Linked DNA regions of Homo sapiens: region 2 is linked to region 1. Evidence: fine-mapped expression QTL. Tissue or cell type: thyroid. Region 1 holds a variant in brackets; the other region holds the start of a gene. All regions are shown on one strand. Distances are from middle to middle.

Region 1 (2,756 bases):
TTGTCTATGCACCACTGTTTGCATCAGCCTCATTTCTCTGCCTGTGACCTAAAAGGATGGCACTGTGACCTGGGAAACCCATCCAGCTTTGTATCCCAAGTGACGGCTCTGTCCACATTTGTGCCCCTACACGCGTTAGCACGCCTGTATGCTGTGGCCACTGACCTCGCGGTGCTCGTGGTGAGGCTGGTGTGGCGCCCTGCTCTCAGCCCGAGGTCACTGCCTGTCCTGAGATGGCTGCTCCCTGACGCACCCGACTTGAGTCTTCCAAGCCCCCTTCCAGGTTGCTCTACGCTCACATTGCACAGAAGCATGACTTGTGCACAAAGGGCCATGGTGCACACGCCGGGAGCTCTTAAACATGAGAGTCGGCTGTCCACTCGTATGGCTGACGGGGGTGGCAGAAGAGGCGCCAGGGGCTGATGCTGTGACCCCTGCGCTCTCCCCTAGTTGGTGTACATGGGTTTTGATGCACTCGTGGCCGAAGCTGCGCTGAGAGTGTTCAGAGGCAACGTCCAGCTGGCCGCCCAGACCCTTGCTCACAACGGAGGAAGCCTGCCTCCCGAGCTGCCGCTGTCGCCAGAAGACTCTTTGTCCCCGCCAGCCACGTCCCCTTCTGACTCCGCAGGTAGGTCTGAGGTCTTTGAGGGCCGCATTGAGAGCAAAGTGTCTTCAGAAGCCAACAGATGTGGCCCTAAGCCACGGCAGATGTGGAGACTGAGGGGGCGTCCCCTGACGTCACCGGGCCGGCCACCTGGACAGTGTGGCCAGCAAGAGGCACAGTCTGAGGTTGACTGTGGTCGTGCAGTGTCCCCAGGACAATCCTCACATAATTCACTTACTCCTGCGGTATTTTATTGTAGGAACCTCTAGTGCCTCAACAGACGAAGACATGGAGACAGAGGCCGTCAATGAGATACTGGAAGACATTCCAGAGCATGAGGAAGACTATCTTGACTCAACTCTGGAAGATGAAGAAATTATTATTGCAGAGTACCTATCCTATGTAGAAAATAGGAAGTCAGCAACAAAGAAAAACTAAATAATGAACAGAAATAGCGCTAATTTTCTGCTTATAAATGCTATCATTATGAAAAGGCTAATGCAGCTCTTTCTGTTCTTACTTTTTATCTGAATTACAAGTCCTCTTTGGGTGTAGGAGGGGGTGGGCAGGGGACAAGTCCAGGAGGGGTCCCAGGGCCTTCATGCGTGGTCTCGGGGAAGAAGCTTCCTCTGGCCTGGCGCAGGCCGTTCCATCTGCCTCCCAGGTCTGCGTCCCTAACCCCTTCCCCAGCTTGGTGTTTTACCCCGAAACAGGAAGGAACAGGGGTCCTGTAGAACAGGGGTCCTGGGGAAGGTGTCCAGGGCAGGGTCCTGGGAAGGGTGTCCCGACCGCTTCCTCTCCAGCTGTGGCTCCATCTGCCCAGCTTGCCTGCCTCCTGCACCCACTGCCCTGACCTTCCTGCTTCCCACGCTGCCATCTCTGCCAGGGTGCCACATGGGTTCCTGTGCCACCCTTTCCCCGCCCCTCAAATCGTCCTTTAAGTCTTCCTTCCAAGTGCTGTGGGGCATAACGATGAGGCGCTGGCCTTGGGGGCCACACCAGGTCGCAGCAAATG[G/C]CTTCAGCCTGGGACGCCAGTGTTTTATGCTCTTAGTTCAGTAAAATACGCCCCCGAAATTCAAGATTGAGTGTCAGGCTTTATATATATTCAGCATTCCTCATTACAGAAATCTTCTATTGAATGGGAAAGGTTTAAATGCTAACCAAAGCAATTTATTTTTAATTAATATTTTTAGACTCTGTGCTGTCATACTGAACTCACTGCTAGCTAAGAGACCTATCAGAGATTTAGATATATTTTCTCCAGGTTTTTTGTGGGTTTTCTTTGTTGTTGTTGTTGTTCTAGCCATGTGACAGAGGCTCTTTCTAAAAGTATGTAGTTCGCTGTGTGTCGGCTCCAGCAGTAACCGTCCTCACTGCGCCACGCACTCCTCTGTAGATGTGTGCCCAGTGGGAGTTCCTTCCAGCCCCAGGACCACAGCAGCAGCCAGGTGCCGAGTGGATTGAGTGCCAGGTGCATCCAAGACTTTCCCTCCCTTCCAGAAGGCACTGACTGAAGACAGGATGGATCATGCGGAGCCGGCTGAAATGCTCCAACTTTTTCAAAGTGTGGGTGGTCCAGTTTGGACTGATGGGAATCTTCTTGTCATTCTTTTTAAACGGATGATACCGATGGAAATAAAAGGTGGGAAATATATTCAAAAATTGTCACCCTAATTTTGCATTAATTTACTCAGCCTCCCCAGCTGTAGGTGTTGAAAGTGTCTGGGTGACTAGCTCTTCATTTTGATTGCAGGATGTCTGTTTCCACTGAGTTTTGTGAGGAGATGATGGAAGGATGATCTCAGAAGCAGAGGGCATCTGCTGTGAAAGATGCCGCACGCCAAGCGGGGCTGGGGTGCATCCTGGGCAGGGGACTGAAATGTACCTGTCAGGGTTTGCCTCAGAAGTGCCTGGTGAGCTGAGGTGACGCGGAGTCTCAGCCTCATTTGACACAATGCCACACTTGGATTTGGGGCCTGAATTTAAGCTTTTGGCTAACAAATCGCTGTCCTGCGCTTGGTTCAGGCGTGTCTTCTAGCTTCCCAGCTGTTTTTAGCCATCATAGAAGCAATGCCACACCAGCAGGCCCCAAAACTCTTCCGTGTCTTGTGAAGAGAGAGCCGCAGAGGAAGCCGGCTGTGGAGGCAGTTCT
Region 2 (2,756 bases), 36 kb before region 1:
TTGGGTTTTATAAGCATAGGGTAATGACGCATGATCGGATTAGATTTTGCGATGAGGTGATGCTGGGATGCTCATCTGACTGGACCCTGCCATGGGGTGACACCAGGGCTTGATCTGATTGCATTCTGGATCTCACCATGCAGTGCCCATTTCTTAATTCAGTCCCTGCTTTGATCTGAGCACTCAGGTTCCGCCCCTGGTTGCATGCTTGGTTCACCTGGGCATCCTCAGGTTACGTGCGAAACCTTCCATCTGGGAGTCCATGCAACTGAAAAACAACTCACAACTTGGGTATATAAAAGGCGAATCAGATTGGTCTGGTGCGGTTATACAGTTATTAATATCCCTTTGTCAGAAGTCAAAATTACCACAAATTTAGATTAAAGATCTATTGGTTTTTATTGATTCATGAATCAGGATGGCATCTTCTCTGAAAATTTAGAAACGGTGCTCCAACGAGCTGGGCAGAGGAGGTGGGCTTTATAGGTAGAAAAGGGCTAAAGAAAGCAGCAACAGGGAACGAAAAACGGATTGGTCACTGCAAGGTTACAGGAGTCCCCTCTCGTCCACACACAGGTGGTGTGTCCCAAGACCCACAGTGGATGCCTGAAACCTCGGATAGTACTGCACCCCATTTTACATACACACACATATATATATACTATATATATACACACACTTCATTTTTCCTATACATACGTACATACCTACGATAAAGTTTAATTTATTAGGCACAGTAAGAGATTAACAGCAATAACTGATAATAAAATAGAAGCGTCACTGTTGAGCACAGCCTTGGGAATAGGACCTTGGAAGTAGGCAGAGCTCCCTAGGCCTTGTGGTCCCTAGTGGCCGTGGACAGCATGGGGGAGGAAATTCCCGGGAAGCAGCCTAATTTCACCCCAGGGAAGCCCCTGGTGGGCTTGTGGAGGGCGGGGTGAAAAGCCGCTGGTTTAGGGAAGGGGTCCAGCCTAGGCTGAGGAATGAGATGCGGGTTGGGACGGTCCCGACCCTTCCCCCAGCCTCTTTCAAGGATTCTGGAGAAACAAAGCCAGGATCCATTTCCTCTTGATGGCTGGCAAACTGAGCCCGGGCGGGAAGTCCTGGAAGACTGAGCCTGGGGTGGCGTTGGACACCAACTCCCAGGTCCTCGCCCCACACGGCCACATCCTCGCCCAGCCCCGCCTCCGCTTAGCTCCGCCCCGTCGCGGCTCCGCCCCGCGGTAACCACGCCCACACAACCGTATCCCCGCCCACAGCTGGCTTCGCCTTGGCCCCGCCCACAACCCTCTTTCCAAGCGGCGGCGGCGGCGGCGGCGCGAAGGCGACAGCGGCGGCGGGGGCGGGGCTGGCCTCACCCGGAATGAAAACAAACGGCGGCCGCTGCCGCATCCGGGCACTCTGCTGGTCGCGGCGGGAGTGGCGTGGCGCAGGTGAGGACACGGCGGCCGAGTGTCCTCGACCCCAGCCTCAGCAGCACTGCTTGGCGCCCCGGTTCCCGGTCCGACTGGGCACCTCTCCTGGCCAGGGGTGGAGCGGCCGCGGGGCGGGGGTGAGCAGCCATGCGTGGAGCTGGGCCGGGGCCGGGGCCGGGGCCGGGAGCGGTGGGCCGGGCTTCGGGACGCGCTGGCCGTTCGGGGCCCTTTGGTTTGCCCTGAGTTAGGCAGAGGTGTGGGGTATTTAAAAGAAAATATTGAGTGTATCGGTTTGGGGAGAGAAAGGAATAAATATGTCTATAAAAAATTAGCCAAATGCTATACTTGAATCGTAACACTCCGAGTATACCATTTGGGATTTATTTGCAATCAAAGCCAGATTTTCTTTGCTATTTAATGACAAGACACTTGATTTTCTCGAACCTTGACGACCTGATTCTATCATTCTCACCTCCTTCCCTTTTATTTTTAATCAAGAATCTTTCATTTTCCTAAGAAAAAATGAATGTGTCTTGACTAGATATAGTTGTGTTTCAACTATATATAATGTATACTTGAAAAGGTGTGGCTAAATGTAGCAATGATCGATTCATTACAAAAGTGAAAGTGAAATTTTTAAAGGATCGTTATAACGTTTCACTTTCTGCTTGGACCACGGAGTGATATTAATGAGTTTCGTCTTTTCTTAGTTACAATGTGAAACATTGTATGGCATGCATGAAACTTTTTCAGTTCTCATTTCAGTTAAAATTAAAAACTGACTTATTAAACTTGACTTAAAATATGTCGCCACTTACTCTGTTGTCTATAACTGAAGTTCCTTAAGTTTCAAGACAGTGGTTTAATTTTTTTTTAACATTAAATCTTATTCGGTGTAACCCTGGAGCTCTTGTTTGCTCCCTGGAGTGTCTGACACGCACTGGGTTTGTAACACTCCTTCGTCCTTCTGTCAAGTGGTGGCTTGGATGGCATCTTTTTAAAAATTTTTTATTTGTTTATTTTTTTAGTAGAGACGGGGTTTCACCATGTTGACCAGGCTGGTCTTGAACTCCTGACCTCAGGTGATCCACTGGCCTCGGCCTCCCAAGTGCTGGGATTACAGGTGTGAGCCACCGCGCCCGGCCTTGGATGGCATCTCTGAGTACCGCATCAGCCTTTCAAATTGCTTGGCTCCAGTAACCAGCCTGTGAAATTACTGTCCCCCAGTGGGGAGACAGTAGGGTTGCTGTGATATTTTATTCAGAATTTCTGAAGATTCATGAGTAGTATGTAAAGTAGTTTTTAAAGTTATTTGTGTTTGAAAAGCTAACGCTCTAAGTA

Evidence for each region. PIP is the estimated chance that this variant, and not a neighbour inherited with it, causes the effect.
Region 2: NUB1 starts here. The variant in region 1 is fine-mapped to the expression of NUB1 in thyroid (GTEx, PIP 0.94).

Annotation. Positions count from the first base shown.
Region 1 is chr7:151,376,184-151,378,939 of GRCh38, forward strand. NUB1 (negative regulator of ubiquitin like proteins 1) reads left to right here. Exons shown (of 15, transcript NM_001243351.2): 14 at 451-628; 15 at 864-2,266. The coding sequence ends at 1,042. It also overlaps a transcript of WDR86 not described here. Among named protein-coding and RNA genes, the nearest start is that of WDR86-AS1, 32 kb to the right of the region's middle. The variant G/C (reference allele first, on the strand shown) is at 1,620.
Region 2 is chr7:151,340,414-151,343,169 of GRCh38, forward strand. It overlaps NUB1 (negative regulator of ubiquitin like proteins 1), which reads left to right and starts at 1,399. Exons shown (of 15, transcript NM_001243351.2): 1 at 1,399-1,433. RefSeq lists an enhancer at 1,020-1,521 and silencers at 1,119-1,318, 1,489-1,668.